Regions from separate parts of the Homo sapiens genome. Here all the other regions are linked to region 2. Evidence: fine-mapped expression QTL. A gene starts in region 2. Each other region holds a variant in brackets. All regions are shown on one strand. Distances are between the middles of the regions.

What was found.
Region 1: its variant is fine-mapped to the expression of FAM30A in whole blood (TOPMed, PIP above 0.99). The same link has a PIP of 0.9 or more in blood mononuclear cells.
Region 3: its variant is fine-mapped to the expression of FAM30A in whole blood (TOPMed, PIP 0.95).
Region 4: its variant is fine-mapped to the expression of FAM30A in whole blood (INTERVAL, PIP above 0.99).
Region 5: its variant is fine-mapped to the expression of FAM30A in whole blood (TOPMed, PIP above 0.99).

The regions. Positions count from the first base shown.
Region 1 is chr14:105,923,429-105,927,547 of GRCh38, reverse strand. It overlaps FAM30A (family with sequence similarity 30 member A), which reads right to left. Exons shown (of 6, transcript NR_026800.2): 6 at 1-3,212. It also overlaps IGH. Among named protein-coding and RNA genes, the nearest start is that of FAM30A, 7.5 kb to the right of the region's middle. The variant G/C (reference allele first, on the strand shown) is at 2,174.
Region 2 is chr14:105,915,430-105,919,548 of GRCh38, reverse strand. FAM30A (family with sequence similarity 30 member A) reads right to left here and starts at 1,570. Exons shown (of 6, transcript NR_026800.2): 1 at 732-1,570. It also overlaps IGH, IGHD2-2 and IGHD1-1.
Region 3 is chr14:105,968,210-105,972,328 of GRCh38, reverse strand. It overlaps IGH and the pseudogene ADAM6. Among named protein-coding and RNA genes, the nearest start is that of FAM30A, 52 kb to the right of the region's middle. The variant G/A (reference allele first, on the strand shown) is at 2,222.
Region 4 is chr14:105,904,930-105,909,048 of GRCh38, reverse strand. It overlaps IGH and IGHD2-8. Among named protein-coding and RNA genes, the nearest start is that of FAM30A, 11 kb to the left of the region's middle. The variant C/T (reference allele first, on the strand shown) is at 2,461.
Region 5 is chr14:105,986,256-105,990,374 of GRCh38, reverse strand. It overlaps IGH and IGHV1-2. Among named protein-coding and RNA genes, the nearest start is that of FAM30A, 70 kb to the right of the region's middle. The variant C/A (reference allele first, on the strand shown) is at 2,312.

The sequences.
Region 1 (4,119 bases), 8.0 kb before region 2:
GCCCACACTTCCTCTCTCTCTCTCTCTCTCTCTCTCTCTATCTCTCTCCCTCCCTCCTTCCCTCCCTCCCGCTCTCTTGGTTGGACAGCTCTCCATCATCCCCCTGGACACGACCACCTCCCAAGGCCGAGCTGGGGCGCTTTGCTCGAGGTGAGCACTGACATCCTGGGGGTGTGAGGGGCACCTGCCCAGCGGCCCCGTGTGCAGGATGGGCGGTGGGCCCTAGCTGGCACTGGGCATATGGCCCGGCTGGTGCCTGCAGGCTGCAGCTTTTCTGGGGTGGCTGGGATCAGTGAAGGCCTCCAGAGTCTGGGCCTGGGATCCCTGCAGTGCTGGCTGAGGACAGGCGGGGCTGGGCAGTGAGGGCACTGGGTCACTATCACCACCCACGGTTTATTACTTCACTAGGTGGGACCTGGCACCCCTGCCTTCCTGACACCCTGGAATCCCTGCCTCCTCCTACAGCCCCCAAGCCCATCTCCCTCAGAGCCTCCAGAGACAGACCTGGGGAGGCATTTCTTCTGCCCCCAGCAGAAGCCCGGGAGGCCGGGAAGGCACAGTGGGTCTAAAGGAGAGGATCCCAGGACTGCCTGAGGGGTGACTCCGACGAGGCAAGCATAGAGCCCACTGAGAAGCGGGGTGGGAGCCCCACCAGGGATGGGCTAGTTCCTCATGAAGGACCAGGACCCAGGAAGGACAAGGGGGCCTGCTGGGGCAGGGTCTGCTATGCCGGAGTCCCTGTGAGCCTGGCCCAGACCTGCCTCTCTCTTTCCTCATTGGTCCCCACAGGTCCGTGGTGGTTGCCGTATCGGGAGGCCCCATGGTGGCAGGGGTGGGACACCTGGTATACGTCGCCAGGTGTGTCCAATAGGCTCATGCTCACACCTTCTCCTGGCACCTGGGCAAAGCCTGAGCACCCAGGCACTGAAGTGAGGGCAAGGCCTCGGGGCCCCACAGGATGGCCGAGGAGACAGCTGCAGGGCGCCTGGGACCCCTGGGCTCAGGAGGTAGAAGGATACAGCCTGAAAACCCACACCACAAGCTCACCGGCCAGTGCAGGCCCACAGAGCTCGAGGAGGCAGCCCTGAGCCTCCCAGGGAGAGATGCTCTGTGCACGCCGGCACAGGCCCTGGGTTACAAACCCTAGGCACAGCCCAGGAGAGGCCCAGGCCCCAGTCCAGCAAGGGGTTGCAGGAAGCAAGAGGTCCCCGGCCACAGCATGAGATAAGCCCATCAAGCCAGGGCCAGGTGGGCAATGGGAGGCAGGCAGGGCTTGGGGGTGAGTCCCTGCTGCAGCGCCGTCCACTGTCGACCGGAGGAGTTTCTTCCCTGTGCGGAGTCCACGGGCCTCCTGTGAGTGTGTGCATGGGCACAAGTGTGTGTGTGGCTCTGCTGTGTGTCTGTACACACGTATGTTTTGGGTTTTTTTGTGTCTCAGACCACAGAGTCTGCCCCTCCCACCAAAGCCCAGGCAGAAGGATGAACCCACGCCCCTGGGGCCCAGGCCTCAGCAGCCTCTGCAGGATCATTGTTCCCAGTTGTCACTTGCCTTTGCCACAGCCCTATTTCTCCACAATTCCTTAAAGTCCTCAACATGCATTTAAGGCACAAAGGTGAAACTGCCCAGAAACATCTGACTCCGCCGTGGAACCCAGGAGCAAGCTGGGTTAGCTAAGGAGCGGGGCCGTTGGCAGAGGCTGGGGATCCAGGCTGAACTTTGGAGGAGGCATGTGCCAGCATGGGCTCCTGACTATGTCCTCCTGGGACAAACCCAAACCCACTCTTTGAATATGGGAGGGACTTTGCTGGCCCCGGCCCTGACCGCAGCACTTGGAAACTGAGGAGTGGTCGCCTCCTCCGTGTCACAGCTGCCCGTTCACCATCATAGAAGCAACTCTGTCACCTCCATGGGCCCCTCTGTGGCTGCTGCCTGGGTCCAAGCTGAGCCCAGCTGCCCAGGCCCAGAAGGAAAGCCCAGGCCAGGTGCCCAGCACAGAGGCAGTCACATACCCCGGGGAGAGCCACAGCAAGCAGCCAATGTTGCCCAGGAGAGGAGTAGCTGACAAGGTAGAACGTGAGCTGCCATCGGCTCGAGAGGCTTTGCTGGTCCTCCTGGGGCTCTGGACATGACCAGGAGGAGCGAGGGAAGAAGTCGCATGGTGGTCCCATCCTG[G/C]GTGGGGCCTGATGGCAGCTGGCCACCCGTCCCAGAGTGGCAGCCAGATGCCAGCGCCATTCCCACAGTCACATCATTGGTCACAGAATGCAGGACATAGAGTGTCTTCTTTCCATCACAGTGCTGTCCAGACCCATAGCCTAGGGTAGACCTGGAAGATTCAATGTCCACACCCGGGGCTGGAGCGTAGCCATGAGCCACGCCCCCTGCCCGTGCATGGAAAGCCAGCCCAAGCTCTGCTCCATCCCTAGCCAAAGTCAGTGTCCTTTCCCCTTCTCCCAAGTGAGCTCTAGCCACCTGCCTACCCTGCCATCTGAGGATGACAGCCTTCATTCCATTGGAACCTGGCTCTGCCACCAGCAGGCTTGCAGTCCTGGGCAGACTCCGTCACCTCTCTATGCCTCAGCCTTTCCATCTGCACAGGAGGAAGATGATGATGGTGGTGATGATGATGGCGATGGTTTCCTTTTGCATCTGAGGCAAGGACTAATTGAGATGATACACATCAGGCACTGGGTATGGTGCTGGTCCTTCCTGAGCACTCAATCTATGTGAGCTGTCCTTGTGAAATGGGTGTCACCACATTTCCCCACGCAGAACATCCTTTGTCTGCCATACTTGAAACGTCTGCCCCAATACTAACAGCTCCTCATGGAAGATGTGCACACCCACCCACCCTCATACTCCCAAAGGTGCCCGTGCTTTATCAAGCCAAAGTCCAGCCAGGAACTTTACAGCAGCATCCCTTTCCCTCTCCAAGCACCAAGGAGCAAGGCAAAGCACTACATCTTCCATCTGGAGGCAATGCCACCCTCTTCTCCCATTTTCACTGCCATCCCTAAGAGGCAGTGCTTCCCCAAAAGGTTCCATAGCAGCCTGCCTACAGCAACTCTGTTCACACGAGTTTCAGCATCCTTGCAGTGGCTCCCCTGCCATGCTGTGGCTCTTCATTCACCCTCTTCTCCTGCTCCCCGTGACAGGCATAGATTCTGAGTGATCTGGATACATTGCTTTGTTTAATAACATTACAGCTTCTGTGCTGAAAAAGATACAGCAGATAGAGAAGGCAATTGTTGAACACAAAATAGTGACAGCAGAGATGACGGCAAGTTGGCATTTTTCTTTTCTAGCAATAAAACTTAAAGCTGACTCAAGGAGAAATGGAAATCATAATTGGAACAGTAATCCTCAAGAAAGCATTAAGATTATTAAATAATTGCCCTCACAGATGACTTCAGGCCAAGATGGCTTTATGGGTGAAGTTTAGACTTTCACAAAACTAATCAGTTCCCATAAGAACTGCTCCAGGATTTGGAGGAACATGGGAAAGTCTATTAAAGGGATCACAATTCACAGTCCCCAGAGTAAAACATGGGCTAACTTGCATTTTGGCAAAGAGCCAAATGTTATAAATGACATCCTAGAAGGCCAAATTCTGTCCATCTCGTTGAACAAGGACTTACACCAGGAATTTAGAACTATTTATAGCTCATCCCACCACTCAGGCCAATGATGACCCATGATCATCTCACCAGAAATGGAAAGACTCAGATGATTAATAGAGTCTCAATTTCTCTGAGACATCTAAGAGCCCAGCCCAAGCCCAGACCCAGGAGGGCACCCAGGCCTGGACAGAGAACACTGATATCACACCAGCCCTCCAGAGGGAAGCAGAGACTCCTTCAAGCTCTGGAAACACAGGCCCAGACAGCTGCCTAAAGTTGGGCAGGCTTCACTGCAAACCCAAATCATGAAGCTAGGTAACACCTTTACAGATTCTTTACATTTAAAAATCATCAAAACAAGAGTAAATAATAAACTCAAATAATATTAATCTAATATGTAAAGGTCTTGTACCATTATTATGCAAACAACATACATAAGCTAATAAGAAAAAGAACAAATCCCTTAAGAAATCGGCAAAAAGGATATAACACAATTTCTAA
Region 2 (4,119 bases):
GCAGATTCTGAACAGCCCCGAGTCACGGTGGGTACAACTGGAACGACCACCGTGAGAAAAACTGTGTCCAAAACTCTCTCCTGGCCCCTGCTGGAGGCCGCGCCAGAGAGGGGAGCAGCCGCCCCGAACCTAGGTCCTGCTCAGCTCACACGACCCCCAGCAGCCAGAGCACAGTGGAGTCCCCACTGAACCCCACTGAATGGTGAGGACGGGGACCAGGGCTCCAGGGGGTCATGGAAGGGGCTGGACCCCATCCTACTGCTATGGTCCCAGTGCTCCTGGCCAGAACTGACCCTACCACCGACAAGAGTCCCTCAGGGAAACGGGGGTCACTGGCACCTCCCAGCATCAACCCCAGGCAGCACAGGCATAAACCCCACATCCAGAGCCGACTCCAGGAGCAGAGACACCCCAGTACCCTGGGGGACACCGACCCTGATGACTCCCCACTGGAATCCACCCCAGAGTCCACCAGGACCAAAGACCCCGCCCCGGTCTCTGTCCCTCACTCAGGACCTGCTGCGGGGCGGGCCATGAGACCAGACTCGGGCTTAGGGAACACCACTGTGGCCCCAACCTCGACCAGGCCACAGGCCCTTCCTTCCTGCCCTGCGGCAGCACAGACTTTGGGGTCTGTGCAGAGAGGAATCACAGAGGCCCCAGGCTGAGGTGGTGGGGGTGGAAGACCCCCAGGAGGTGGCCCACTTCCCTTCCTCCCAGCTGGAACCCACCATGACCTTCTTAAGATAGGGGTGTCATCCGAGGCAGGTCCTCCATGGAGCTCCCTTCAGGCTCCTCCCTGGTCCTCACTAGGCCTCAGTCCCGGCTGTGGGAATGCAGCCACCACAGGCACACCAGGCAGCCCAGACCCAGCCAGCCTGCAGTGCCCAAGCCCACATTCTGGAGCAGAGCAGGCTGTGTCTGGGAGAGTCTGGGCTCCCCACCGCCCCCCGCACACCCCACCCACCCCTGTCCAGGCCCTATGCAGGAGGGTCAGAGCCCCCCATGGGGTATGGACTTAGGGTCTCACTCACGCGGCTCCCCTCCTGGGTGAAGGGGTCTCATGCCCAGATCCCCACAGCAGAGCTGGTCAAAGGTGGAGGCAGTGGCCCCAGGGCCACCCTGACCTGGACCCTCAGGCTCCTCTAGCCCTGGCTGCCCTGCTGTCCCTGGGAGGCCTGGACTCCACCAGACCACAGGTCCAGGGCACCGCCCATAGGTGCTGCCCACACTCAGTTCACAGGAAGAAGATAAGCTCCAGACCCCCAAGACTGGGACCTGCCTTCCTGCCACCGCTTGTAGCTCCAGACCTCCGTGCCTCCCCCGACCACTTACACACGGGCCAGGGAGCTGTTCCACAAAGATCAACCCCAAACCGGGACCGCCTGGCACTCGGGCCGCTGCCACTTCCCTCTCCATTTGCTCCCAGCACCTCTGTGCTCCCTCCCTCCTCCCTCCTTCAGGGGAACAGCCTGTGCAGCCCCTCCCTGCACCCCACACCCTGGGGAGGCCCAACCCTGCCTCCAGCCCTTTCTCCCCCGCTGCTCTTCCTGCCCATCCAGACAACCCTGGGGTCCCATCCCTGCAGCCTACACCCTGGTCTCCACCCAGACCCCTGTCTCTCCCTCCAGACACCCCTCCCAGGCCAACCCTGCACATGCAGGCCCTCCCCTTTTCTGCTGCCAGAGCCTCAGTTTCTACCCTCTGTGCCTACCCCCTGCCTCCTCCTGCCCACAACTCGAGCTCTTCCTCTCCTGGGGCCCCTGAGCCATGGCACTGACCGTGCACTCCCACCCCCACACTGCCCATGCCCTCACCTTCCTCCTGGACACTCTGACCCTGCTCCCCTCTTGGACCCAGCCCTGGTATTTCCAGGACAAAGGCTCACCCAAGTCTTCCCCATGCAGGCCCTTGCCCTCACTGCCCGGTTACACGGCAGCCTCCTGTGCACAGAAGCAGGGAGCTCAGCCCTTCCACAGGCAGAAGGCACTGAAAGAAATCGGCCTCCAGCACCCTGATGCACGTCCGCCTGTGTCTCTCACTGCCCGCACCTGCAGGGAGGCTCGGCACTCCCTGTAAAGACGAGGGATCCAGGCAGCAACATCATGGGAGAATGCAGGGCTCCCAGACAGCCCAGCCCTCTCGCAGGCCTCTCCTGGGAAGAGACCTGCAGCCACCACTGAACAGCCACGGAGCCCGCTGGATAGTAACTGAGTCAGTGACCGACCTGGAGGGCAGGGGAGCAGTGAACCGGAGCCCAGACCATAGGGACAGAGACCAGCCGCTGACATCCCGAGCCCCTCACTGGCGGCCCCAGAACACCGCGTGGAAACAGAACAGACCCACATTCCCACCTGGAACAGGGCAGACACTGCTGAGCCCCCAGCACCAGCCCTGAGAAACACCAGGCAACGGCATCAGAGGGGGCTCCTGAGAAAGAAAGGAGGGGAGGTCTCCTTCACCAGCAAGTACTTCCCTTGACCAAAAACAGGGTCCACGCAACTCCCCCAGGACAAAGGAGGAGCCCCCTGTACAGCACTGGGCTCAGAGTCCTCTCCAACACACCCTGAGTTTCAGACAAAAACCCCCTGGAAATCATAGTATCAGCAGGAGAACTAGCCAGAGACAGCAAGAGGGGACTCAGTGACTCCCGCGGGGACAGGAGGATTTTGTGGGGGCTCGTGTCACTGTGAGGATATTGTAGTAGTACCAGCTGCTATGCCCACAGTGACACAGCCCCATTCCCAAAGCCCTGCTGTAAACGCTTCCACTTCTGGAGCTGAGGGGCTGGGGGGAGCGTCTGGGAAGTAGGGCCTAGGGGTGGCCATCAATGCCCAAAACGCACCAGACTCCCCCCCAGACATCACCCCACTGGCCAGTGAGCAGAGTAAACAGAAAATGAGAAGCAGCTGGGAAGCTTGCACAGGCCCCAAGGAAAGAGCTTTGGCGGGTGTGCAAGAGGGGATGCGGGCAGAGCCTGAGCAGGGCCTTTTGCTGTTTCTGCTTTCCTGTGCAGATAGTTCCATAAACTGGTGTTCAAGATCGATGGCTGGGAGTGAGCCCAGGAGGACAGTGTGGGAAGGGCACAGGGAAGGAGAAGCAGCCGCTATCCTACACTGTCATCTTTCAAGAGTTTGCCCTGTGCCCACAATGCTGCATCATGGGATGCTTAACAGCTGATGTAGACACAGCTAAAGAGAGAATCAGTGAAATGGATTTGCAGCACAGATCTGAATAAATTCTCCAGAATGTGGAGCCACACAGAAGCAAGCACAAGGAAAGTGCCTGATGCAAGGGCAAAGTACAGTGTGTACCTTCAGGCTGGGCACAGACACTCTGAAAAGCCTTGGCAGGAACTCCCTGCAACAAAGCAGAGCCCTGCAGGCAATGCCAGCTCCAGAGCCCTCCCTGAGAGCCTCATGGGCAAAGATGTGCAGAACATATGTTTGTCATAGCCCCAAACTGAGAATGAAGCAAACAGCCATCTGAAGGAAAACAGGCAAATAAACGATGGCAGGTTCATGAAATGCAAACCCAGACAGCCAGAAGGACAACAGTGAGGGTTACAGGTGACTCTGTGGTTGAGTTCATGACAATGCTGAGTAATTGGAGTAACAAAGGAAAGTCCAAAAAATACTTTCAATGTGATTTCTTCTAAATAAAATTTACAGCCGGCAAAATGAACTATCTTCTTAAGGGATAAACTTTCCACTAGGAAAACTATAAGGAAAATCAAGAAAAGGATGATCACATAAACACAGTGGTCGTTACTTCTACTGGGGAAGGAAGAGGGTATGAACTGAGACACACAGGGTTGGCAAGTCTCCTAACAAGAAGAGAACAAATACATTACAGTACCTTGAAAACAGCAGTTAAAATTCTAAATTGCAAGAAGAGGAAAATGCACACAGCTGTGTTTAGAAAATTCTCAGTCCAGCACTGTTCATAATAGCAAAGACATTAACCCAGGTTGGATAAATAAACGATGACACAGGCAATTGCACAATGATACAGACATACATTCAGTATATGAGACATTGATGATGTATCCCCAAAGAAATGACTTTAAAGAGAAAAGGCCTGATATGTGGTGGCACTCACCTCCCTGGGCATCCCCGG
Region 3 (4,119 bases), 53 kb before region 2:
TCCCTCCCGGAGTCCAGGTGCCCCCCGGGGTGTGGTGCGGGAGCCTGGGGAGGCCCTTTGTTCTCTGTCAGGGTCTCCCTGGGAGGGACGCAGCCACCGCAGCTGGTTGGGGCCTGGCTTCGCCCAGGACAGTCCTTTCCTTTCCCATTGTCTTTGGATGACTATCGCTGGGCTGGGACATGAGGCGGGCAGAGGCGCGGGTCACCCTTAGGACCCCCCTCTTGCTGCTGGGGCTCTGGGCGCTCCTGGCTCCGGTCCGGTGTTCTCAAGGCCGTCCCTTGTGGCACTACGCCTCCTCCGAGGTGGTGATTCCCAGGAAGGAGACACACCATAGCAAAGGCCTTCAGTTTCCCGGCTGGCTGTCCTACAGCCTGTGTTTTGGGGTCAAAGACACGTCATTCACATGCGGAGGAAACACCTTCTTTGGCCTAGACATCTGCTGGTGACAACTCAGGATGACCAAGGAGTCTTGCAGATGGGTGACCCCTACATCCCTCCAGACTGCTAGTACCTCGGCTACCTGGAGGAGGTGCCTCTGTCCATGGTCACCGTCGACACGTGCTATGGGGACCTCAGAGGCATCATGAGGCTGGACGACCTTGCGTACGAAATCAAACCCCTCCAGGATTCCCGCAGGTTTGAACATGTTGTTTTTCAGATAGTGGCCGAGCCCAACGCAACAGGGCCCACATTTAGAGATGATGACAATGAGACAGACCCCCTGTTCTCTGAAGCAAATGACAGCATGAATCCCAGGATATCTAATTCGCTGTATAGTTCTCATAGAGGCAATATAAAAGGCCACGTTCAATGTTCCAATTCATATTATCGCATATATGGCAATATTACAACTTGTTCCAAAGAGGTGGTCCAGATGTTCAGTCTCATTGACAGCATTGCTCAAAATATTGATCTGCGGTACTATATTTATCTTTTGACCATATATAATAATCGTGACCCAGCCCCTGTGAATGAATATCGAATTCAGAGTGCAATGTTTACCTATTTTAAAACAACTTTTTTTGATACTTTTCATGTTCATTCATCCACACTACTTATTAAATACGTGCCACATGAATCTAACTATGAACCTGAAAGGTATAACTTCTGTTCCCGTATAGCCCTGTTACACATTGGTACTCCAGGCAGACATTATTTATTGGTAGCCGTCATAATAACCCAGACACAGATGAGAAGTATTGGTCTGGAGTATGATGATAACTACTGCACATGTCAGAGAAGGGCCTCCTGCATTATGCAGCGATTTCCTGGGATGACAGATGCGTTCAGTAACTGTTCTTATGGACATGCACAAAATTGTTTTATACATTCAGGCCAGTGTGTTTTTGAAACACTTGCTCCTGTGTATAACGAAACCATGACAACGGTTCGCTGTGGAAACCTCATAGTGGAGGGGAGGGAGGAATGTGACTGTGGCTCCTTCAAGCAGTGTTATGCCAGTTATTGCTGCCAAAGTGACTGTCACTTAACACCGGGGAGCATCTGCCATATAGGAGAGTGCTGTACAAACTGCAGCTTCTCCCCACCAGGGACTCTCTGCAGACCTATCCAAAATATATGTGACCTTCCAGAGTACTGTCACGGGACCACCGTGACATGTCCCGCAAACGTTTATACGCAAGATGGAACCCCGTGCACTGAAGAAGGCTACTGCTATCGTGGGAACTGCACTGATCGCAATGTGCTCTGCAAGGCGATCTTTGGTGTCAGTGCTGAGGATGCTCCCGAGGTCTGCTATGACATAAATCTTGAAAGCTACCGATTTGGACATTGTATTAGACAACAAACATATCTCAGCTACCAGGCTTGTGCAGGAATAGATAAGTTTTGTGGAAGACTGCAGTGTACCAATGTGACCCATCTTCCCCGGCTGCAGGAACGTGTTTCATTCCATCACTCAGTGAGAGGAGGGTTTCAGTGTTTTGGACTGGATGAACACCATGCAACAGACACGACTGATGTTGGGCGTGTGATAGATGGCACTCCTTGTGTTCATGGAAACTTCTGTAATAACACCCAGTGCAATGTGACTATCACTTCACTGGGCTACAACTGCCACCCTCAGAAGTGCGGTCATAGAGGAGTCTGCAACAACAGAAGGAACTGCCATTGCCATATAGGCTGGGATCCTCCACTGTGCCTAAGAAGAGGTGCTGGTGGGAGTGTCAACAGCGGGCCACCTCCAAAAAGAACACGTTCC[G/A]TCAAACAAAGCCAGCAATCAGTGATGTATCTGAGAGTGGTCTTTGGTCGTATTTACGCCTTCATAATTGCACTGCTCTTTGGGACAGCCAAAAATGTGCGAACTATCAGGACCACCACCGTTAAGGAAGGGACAGTTACTAACCCTGAATAACACTAATTCAGCCTCCCGATCCCTGTAAAGATACAGAGAATATAACAGCAAAATCTATGAAACAGGATCAGGGGAAGGGATGGCAAAGCTCAAGTCCACATTTCTTGAAGTCCACAGGAAGCACAGGGTCCTGTTTCACATCACAGGGAAACGGGAGGCATTGGCTTCTGTCCCAGGTTCTTGTAGGTCGCTGATGCTCACTCTGAAATAAATCTTCAAAAACACATTGGTGCCTTCCACATTTTCTTAGACTCCTCTGGGAGCCCAAACTTGGCCAGAACCTCTTGCCTGGAGAGACATGAATGAGCATCTGGCTCTTGACCTGAGGTCTCTGGTCCCAGAATTAACGGAAGTTGCCACCAGCTCCTTACAGGGAACATTCATGACATTTCTCCAGAAGAGAGCTCCAGAGCAATGAGCTTCCTCATTCCCCAGGTAATCTGTCCTTCTCTAAACCCGAAGTCAGTTTAGGGTGATCCAGGGCTACTCCCTGTTCCCTGTCTGTTCCTCACGGGGGTGCTGTGGGCTTTTCAGTGAGAGGGACTTGGGTTCAAATCCCCCACCAAGCAAATCCCCCTACCTGGGGCCGAGCTTCCCGTATGTGGGAAAATGAATCCCTGAGGTCGATTGCTGCATGCAATGAAATTCAACTAGAAAAATAGGTAGACGTGAGGGGCAAGCTGTCTGTCATTTAGTGTGAGCTCTGTGAGTGGCAGCTGCCCCCTTTCTTCCTGCCCCCACATTTCCTTGAACTGAAACAGGAAGGGAAGCTGAGTAAGTCGTGATGAGGAAGAGAAACCAGGCTTGTAGCAGCACAGGCTGGTCCGGGTGGAAAACAGGGCTAGGTGTATCACTGAGTTATTGTAAAGGAAAATGGAAGTTAAATGTATAAATAACTGAATGAGATAACATTTTATTTTAACTTAAAATTCACACTAATATTGACTTTTAAAATGCAGTGTAGATATGTCAGAGAGAATTTCAAAGGCAAAGCCCACCGACGGAAGAAATCACCCTTCCCATACCATCCACAGAAAACTGTTGGTATTCTAGGGTAGTACTGAGATCTAGCATTTTTCTGAATACATCCGTGGTTCTAGATGTCCTGCTTCCATAGATATTGTTTAGAATTCCCACCCCTTTCTCCAAACACAGCTTGATATCCTTTCTCTGAACCTGTTAGAAATTTCCTCCATTCAGCTGTCATAAAGATGCGAGCAATCCATTCCTGTGCCTCTGTCAGTGTGTTCTATTATTTTGTGGGTGAACGCTAATGGACAGTTAAGTGTGAGGTCAGTGAATACAGTGCCCTCCCTCTATGTGTCCTTCGGGTGTGAGGGGTTTTGCTGATAGAGCAGCAGGCCCCATCCCACCCTTTATGCATCTCCGCCCCCCACCTCACGCTCCAGCTGACCTCTCCCCTGTGGCCTGGGGCGTTCCCCAGGGGGAATGACCTCTCCTCTCTCCAGGGCCCACCCACTCAGTGCCCGTGCAAGACCACCACGCTTGGCACGGCCCCACCTCGCGTCAGGGCCTGTGTCCCCTGCCCCACCCCCTAAACAGATGGGAACCACTGGGACTCTGCTCAGGGCAGGGGGCGGAGGTATGTGTGAAAGGAAGGCAAATGTGCACTCTGTTGGAGAAATATTATAGGTAGTTTGAGCAAAAAATCTAATGCCATGTGAACTTTTAGAATGATACGTATTTTAACAAAGAACATGACCAATAGAGTTTGTATTGAAGCC
Region 4 (4,119 bases), 10 kb after region 2:
ACCCCCACCTGCACACCCCACCCACCCTTGCCCGGGCCCCCTGCAGGAGGGTCAGAGCCCCCATGGGATATGGACTTAGGGTCTCACTCACGCACCTCCCCTCCTGGGAGAAGGGGTCTCATGCCCAGATCCCCCCAGCAGCGCTGGTCACAGGTAGAGGCAGTGGCCCCAGGGCCACCCTGACCTGGCCCCTCAGGCTCCTCTAGCCCTGGCTGCCCTGCTGTCCCTGGGAGGCCTGGGCTCCACCAGACCACAGGTCTAGGGCACCGCCCACACTGGGGCCGCCCACACACAGCTCACAGGAAGAAGATAAGCTCCAGACCCCCAGGCCCGGGACCTGCCTTGCTGCTACGACTTCCTGCCCCAGACCTCGTTGCCCTCCCCCGTCCACTTACACACAGGCCAGGAAGCTGTTCCCACACAGACCAACCCCAGACGGGGACCACCTGGCACTCAGGTCACTGCCATTTCCTTCTCCATTCACTTCCAATGCCTCTGTGCTTCCTCCCTCCTCCTTCCTTCGGGGGAGCACCCTGTGCAGCTCCTCCCTGCAGTCCACACCCTGGGGAGACCCGACCCTGCAGCCCACACCCTGGGGAGACCTGACCCTCCTCCAGCCCTTTCTCCCCCGCTGCTCTTGCCACCCACCAAGACAGCCCTGGGGTCCTGTCCCTACAGCCCCCACCCAGTTCTCTACCTAGACCCGTCTTCCTCCCTCTAAACACCTCTCCCAGGCCAACCCTACACCTGCAGGCCCTCCCCTCCACTGCCAAAGACCCTCAGTTTCTCCTGCCTGTGCCCACCCCCGTGCTCCTCCTGCCCACAGCTCGAGCTCTTCCTCTCCTAGGGCCCCTGAGGGATGGCATTGACCGTGCCCTCGCACCCACACACTGCCCATGCCCTCACATTCCTCCTGGCCACTCCAGCCCCACTCCCCTCTCAGGCCTGGCTCTGGTATTTCTGGGACAAAGCCTTACCCAAGTCTTTCCCATGCAGGCCTGGGCCCTTACCCTCACTGCCCGGTTACAGGGCAGCCTCCTGTGCACAGAAGCAGGGAGCTCAGCCCTTCCACAGGCAGAAGGCACTGAAAGAAATCGGCCTCCAGCGCCTTGACACACGTCTGCCTGTGTCTCTCACTGCCCGCACCTGCAGGGAGGCTCGGCACTCCCTCTAAAGACGAGGGATCCAGGCAGCAGCATCACAGGAGAATGCAGGGCTACCAGACATCCCAGTCCTCTCACAGGCCTCTCCTGGGAAGAGACCTGAAGACGCCCAGTCAACGGAGTCTAACACCAAACCTCCCTGGAGGCCGATGGGTAGTAACGGAGTCATTGCCAGACCTGGAGGCAGGGGAGCAGTGAGCCCGAGCCCACACCATAGGGCCAGAGGACAGCCACTGACATCCCAAGCCACTCACTGGTGGTCCCACAACACCCCATGGAAAGAGGACAGACCCACAGTCCCACCTGGACCAGGGCAGAGACTGCTGAGACCCAGCACCAGAACCAACCAAGAAACACCAGGCAACAGCATCAGAGGGGGCTCTGGCAGAACAGAGGAGGGGAGGTCTCCTTCACCAGCAGGCGCTTCCCTTGACCGAAGACAGGATCCATGCAACTCCCCCAGGACAAAGGAGGAGCCCCTTGTTCAGCACTGGGCTCAGAGTCCTCTCCAAGACACCCAGAGTTTCAGACAAAAACCCCCTGGAATGCACAGTCTCAGCAGGAGAGCCAGCCAGAGCCAGCAAGATGGGGCTCAGTGACACCCGCAGGGACAGGAGGATTTTGTGGGGGCTCGTGTCACTGTGAGGATATTGTACTAATGGTGTATGCTATACCCACAGTGACACAGCCCCATTCCCAAAGCCCTACTGCAAACGCATTCCACTTCTGGGGCTGAGGGGCTGGGGGAGCGTCTGGGAAATAGGGCTCAGGGGTGTCCATCAATGCCCAAAACGCACCAGACTCCCCTCCATACATCACACCCACCAGCCAGCGAGCAGAGTAAACAGAAAATGAGAAGCAAGCTGGGGAAGCTTGCACAGGCCCCAAGGAAAGAGCTTTGGCGGGTGTGTAAGAGGGGATGCGGGCAGAGCCTGAGCAGGGCCTTTTGCTGTTTCTGCTTTCCTGTGCAGAGAGTTCCATAAACTGGTGTTCGAGATCAATGGCTGGGAGTGAGCCCAGGAGGACAGCGTGGGAAGAGCACAGGGAAGGAGGAGCAGCCGCTATCCTACACTGTCATCTTTCGAAAGTTTGCCTTGTGCCCACACTGCTGCATCATGGGATGCTTAACAGCTGATGTAGACACAGCTAAAGAGAGAATCAGTGAGATGGATTTGCAGCACAGATCTGAATAAATTCTCCAGAATGTGGAGCAGCACAGAAGCAAGCACACAGAAAGTGCCTGATGCAAGGACAAAGTTCAGTGGGCACCTTCAGGCATTGCTGCTGGGCACAGACA[C/T]TCTGAAAAGCCCTGGCAGGAACTCCCTGTGACAAAGCAGAACCCTCAGGCAATGCCAGCCCCAGAGCCCTCCCTGAGAGCCTCATGGGCAAAGATGTGCACAACAGGTGTTTCTCATAGCCCCAAACTGAGAGCAAAGCAAACGTCCATCTGAAGGAGAACAGGCAAATAAACGATGGCAGGTTCATGAAATGCAAACCCAGACAGCCACAAGCACAAAAGTACAGGGTTATAAGCGACTCTGGTTGAGTTCATGACAATGCTGAGTAATTGGAGTAACAAAGTAAACTCCAAAAAATACTTTCAATGTGATTTCTTCTAAATAAAATTTACACCCTGCAAAATGAACTGTCTTCTTAAGGGATACATTTCCCAGTTAGAAAACCATAAAGAAAACCAAGAAAAGGATGATCACATAAACACAGTGGTGGTTACTTCTGCTGGGGAAGGAAGAGGGTATGAACTGAGATACACAGGGTGGGCAAGTCTCCTAACAAGAACAGAACGAATACATTACAGTACCTTGAAAACAGCAGTTAAACTTCTAAATTGCAAGAAGAGGAAAATGGACACAGTTGTGTTTAGAAAATTCTCAGTCCAGCACTGTTCATAATAGCAAAGACATTAACCCAGGTCGGATAAATAAGCGATGACACAGGCAATTGCACAATGATACAGACATATATTTAGTATATGAGACATCGATGATGTATCCCCAAATAAACGACTTTAAAGAGATAAAGGGCTGATGTGTGGTGGCATTCACCTCCCTGGGATCCCCGGACAGGTTGCAGGCTCACTGTGCAGCAGGGCAGGCGGGTACCTGCTGGCAGTTCCTGGGGCCTGATGTGGAGCAAGCGCAGGGCCATATATCCCGGAGGACGGCACAGTCAGTGAATTCCAGAGAGAAGCAACTCAGCCACACTCCCCAGGCAGAGCCCGAGAGGGACGCCCACGCACAGGGAGGCAGAGCCCAGCACCTCCGCAGCCAGCACCACCTGTGCACGGGCCACCACCTTGCAGGCACAGAGTGGGTGCTGAGAGGAGGGGCAGGGACACCAGGCAGGGTGAGCACCCAGAGAAAACTGCAGACGCCTCACACATCCACCTCAGCCTCCCCTGACCTGGACCTCACTGGCCTGGGCCTCACTTAACCTGGGCTTCACCTGACCTTGGCCTCACCTGACTTGGACCTCGCCTGTCCCAAGCTTTACCTGACCTGGGCCTCAACTCACCTGAACGTCTCCTGACCTGGGTTTAACCTGTCCTGGAACTCACCTGGCCTTGGCTTCCCCTGACCTGGACCTCATCTGGCCTGGGCTTCACCTGGCCTGGGCCTCACCTGACCTGGACCTCATCTGGCCTGGACCTCACCTGGCCTGGACTTCACCTGGCCTGGGCTTCACCTGACCTGGACCTCACCTGGCCTCGGGCCTCACCTGCACCTGCTCCAGGTCTTGCTGGAGCCTGAGTAGCACTGAGGGTGCAGAAGCTCATCCAGGGTTGGGGAATGACTCTAGAAGTCTCCCACATCTGACCTTTCTGGGTGGAGGCAGCTGGTGGCCCTGGGAATATAAAAATCTCCAGAATGATGACTCTGTGATTTGTGGGCAACTTATGAACCCGAAAGGACATGGCCATGGGGTGGGTAGGGACATA
Region 5 (4,119 bases), 71 kb before region 2:
CATTTTTGTCAATCACTTTGCTAAATGTGGCTGAGAGGCTGTTGAAATGAACGCCGAGCAAATGTATTCACCAAATCTACAAGAGCAAATTATTTGCCAATTGCTGATTGAGTGGGGTCTATAATGTATTTGAGATTGGGTGTGGGGATGTTATTGTGTGAGATCATGATGTTTAGACCATGACACTCTCTGGTGAGGGATCACTCATTCATTGCACATTTAATGAAAGGCAGGTAGGAGGAGCAGAAGGGGATGAGTCACACTCCTGACCACAGCCACAGGTTATTGAAGGCAGAACTGATGTAATCCCCTAAGGTAGACCACTGCCCCTCCAAGGTGACCTTATCCTAGAGTTGACACACATCCTGGGACACCAGAGACAACTCCTTCTCTCCCCTTTCTCTGCACTTCAGCTGGAAGCAACTGTCTCACCGAGCACCTTGTGTTAAGGAATGAGAGTTCCTGTTCCAGGTGTGAGGGCCCAGGTGCATCCACTTGATCCAGCACAAGAGCAAGAACAGCCTTCCAGAAAATGACATCGCCTGAGGTATAACCAGCTCTCACCTGCTGCAGCTTCCTCTGAATAAAAAGGAAACTGTTGAAACTTCCTCATAAGTGTCCTGCTGTGCCATTCCCTTTGTCCCCACATGTTCAGTTGTGTCTGTCCAGATGTCACTTTTGTGTAGGGAGATTAGGGTTCTGCTTCCAGTACCAGAACACACATGACCTCTTAGGGGACTTCAGGGTTTTGCTGACATATGTGATGATCTTAAAAGTCATTAGCTCCATTTCTACATCAAAAAACATCTGAACCAGAGGAGCACATAGGCTCAGGCCTGTAATCCCAGCACTTTGGGAAGCCAAGGCAGAGGAATCACTTGAGGTCAGGAATTTGAGACCAGCCTGGTGAACATGGTGAAACCCCGTCTCTACTAAAAAATATATACAAAAATTAGCCAGGCGTGGTGGCACTAGCCTGTAATCCCAGCTACTTGAAAGGCTGAGGCAGGAGAATTGCTTGAACCCAGGAGGTGGAGATTGAAGTGAGCTGAGATCGCACCACTTCACTCCAGCCTGGGCGACAGAGTGAGCCTCCATCTAAAAAAAAAAAAAAATTTATATATATATATATATATATATATAATAAATATATATTATATATTATATATATATTTTATATAATATATATGTATATTTTTATATATTATACATACATATTTATATATTATATATAATATGTATATATAATATATAATATGTATATTTATATATTATATAATATGTATATTTATATATATTATACATATATATTTTTATATATATATATCTCCAAACCATCTAAATATCAAGTATTTTTTAATCCATCTAAGAGCTGAAATTGCTGAAAAAACTACTCCCTCCAAAAGCTGTAGAGACAGGCACATCCACAGTCACAGCAGAGACTTGCTGACTTGGAAGGGAAGCTCCTGGAGACACATTGGTGAGAACATTTACCTGGTGATTATGCTGAATGTCTGGAGGACAAATGTGGACTAGGGGGAGGGTGAGCACTCCTAGAGGCTGTACACCCCACACTTGTGTGGACTTGCCCTCCAGGGCCTTCAGGTTCTCGTGGAAGCAATTAAAATAGATTCCCTATAGCCATGAACTGGGGAGGAGTAATCACGGAGAAAAGATGCACAAAAAGACTTTTCTAGAAAGCTCATCCAAGGGAAGGTATTCTCCAAAATCTTAGTTTATGTGGGGGAAGGAAATACTTCCAAATTACAGACCCCTCCTCCTCAGCCTTCCTCTATCACGCAAATGATAAAATTAGCCAAGAGGAGTCAGATTCAAGGCGGTAGCCCTGGGTGCAGCATCTGCAGAAGGGAGGAAAGAGAGAAAATCAGCTGTATCACTGGAGATTCCTTGTGAAGGTCACTGCTCAGGAGAAGAGGGCAACCAAACCAGGGAGAGTCAACTGTAAGAACATACCATGCTCCCCTGCCCCACACATTACCTCCTCAACAGCATCATTAATATGGATTAAAGAGGGCAGTGTGATTGCTTTAGATCTGTTTGAGAAAGAAAGTCACATACTGAGGCCTAGGGTCAGGGTCGGCGGCACTTCCCGTGAGTAAGATACTACGAAGAAGGAAAAATTAGGGGTCCATAACTGTGAAAATCAGCCACAGTGTGTGTGAGAATGTTTGTGTTTGTGTTTCTGTGTGTTTGAGTAGGAGTTATTGGAACAGCGGACGTGGAGTGAGCTTTAATCCACATCCATCTGCAGCTTCAGGTATTCTCAGATGCAGTATTCATCTGCAAGAGC[C/A]GAAATGAGAAAAGAGCCACCTCCAACCCCCCCAGAGTTTTAGCCTCCCTTTGTTTCCAGTGATCCAGTGCATCTAGACCTCCAGGAAGTGGACTCCCTGGTGATTTTAGCGATTCTTCTCTTGGAGCCACCCTGAAGAGGACATTGGGTTTCCAAAGGCCCATTCACTATTTCAAGAGGTGGTGTCATCAGCTCATGTTGTCACTGAAGGAGCATTCTGAGCCAGGTCACAGTCACTTCCTAGTGAGCTACAGAGGCTGAGAGAAAAATGCTCTGTGAGACCCAATGGGAAGCTCCCTGCAGTGCAAGGTCTGGGTGGCAGGGAGCGCTAGGGCCTCGCCCAGCACAGGCTGCAGCCCTGGAGCAGGTGCAAGGGAGGCTGGGGAGGGGTTCCTCCCAGGGTCTGATGTCTTCCTTTTCTCGGACAAACATGCTTTAATAAGTTAAACAAGACTTTAGTAAAGACTATTGATGTGTCTTTGTGTCTTTCAGTATACAGTTCTATTTGTAGGATTTATCTAACCTAACAAGTCAATGAGAATCACATGTAAAAGGAGAAATTTCTAGGATTTTCAGATATCTTAATAGGTAGGAGATGGAGAAAAGGGATGGTTTTATTAATTCAGTGCTTGCCAATCTTAACAGAGACAGTAGTAAGACATGCAGAAAGCAAAGCCCAGAAAAGTATGAAGGTGTCAAAGTGCCATTTAAGTATGGGTTCACTTGGAGGACCATGTTCTGCGGGAACTTGTTTTCAGCAGACAATCTATTTTAGCAGAGTTCTGGGCATACAAGGGGACACACATCATTAAACAAGGATTGGGACAGGGACTTCAGCGTCCCACTGTTGCATGGCCCATAAATTATGTGTGTTCTCTTTCTCATCTTGGATCAAGTCTAGAGCTATGAAATAGTATCCCTCATGAATATGCAAATAACCTGAGATTTACTGAAGTAAATACAGATCTGTCCTGTGCCCTGAGAGCATCACCCAGCAACCACATCTGTCCTCTAGAGAATCCCCTGAGAGCTCCGTTCCTCACCATGGACTGGACCTGGAGGATCCTCTTCTTGGTGGCAGCAGCCACAGGTAAGAGGCTCCCTAGTCCCAGTGATGAGAAAGAGATTGAGTCCAGTCCAGGGAGATCTCATCCACTTCTGTGTTCTCTCCACAGGAGCCCACTCCCAGGTGCAGCTGGTGCAGTCTGGGGCTGAGGTGAAGAAGCCTGGGGCCTCAGTGAAGGTCTCCTGCAAGGCTTCTGGATACACCTTCACCGGCTACTATATGCACTGGGTGCGACAGGCCCCTGGACAAGGGCTTGAGTGGATGGGATGGATCAACCCTAACAGTGGTGGCACAAACTATGCACAGAAGTTTCAGGGCTGGGTCACCATGACCAGGGACACGTCCATCAGCACAGCCTACATGGAGCTGAGCAGGCTGAGATCTGACGACACGGCCGTGTATTACTGTGCGAGAGACACAGTGTGAAAACCCACATCCTGAGGGTGTCAGAAACCCCAGGGAGGAGGCAGCTGTGCTGGGGCTGAGAAATGAAAGGGATTACTATTTTTAATGTTGTTTACAGTATGTCATTAATAAATTGAAAAAAAGTAACAATAGAAGTATATACTCTAATTATATGGGAACTTTGTTTTTTCAGTTTTTTCATTTTTTTTTTTTTTTTTGGTTTGTTTGTGACAGAGTCTCACTCTGCCACCCAGGCTGGAGTGTAACGGCACAATCTCAGCTCACTACAACCTCCACCTCCCAGGTTCAAGCAATTCTCCTGCCTCGGCCTCCAGAG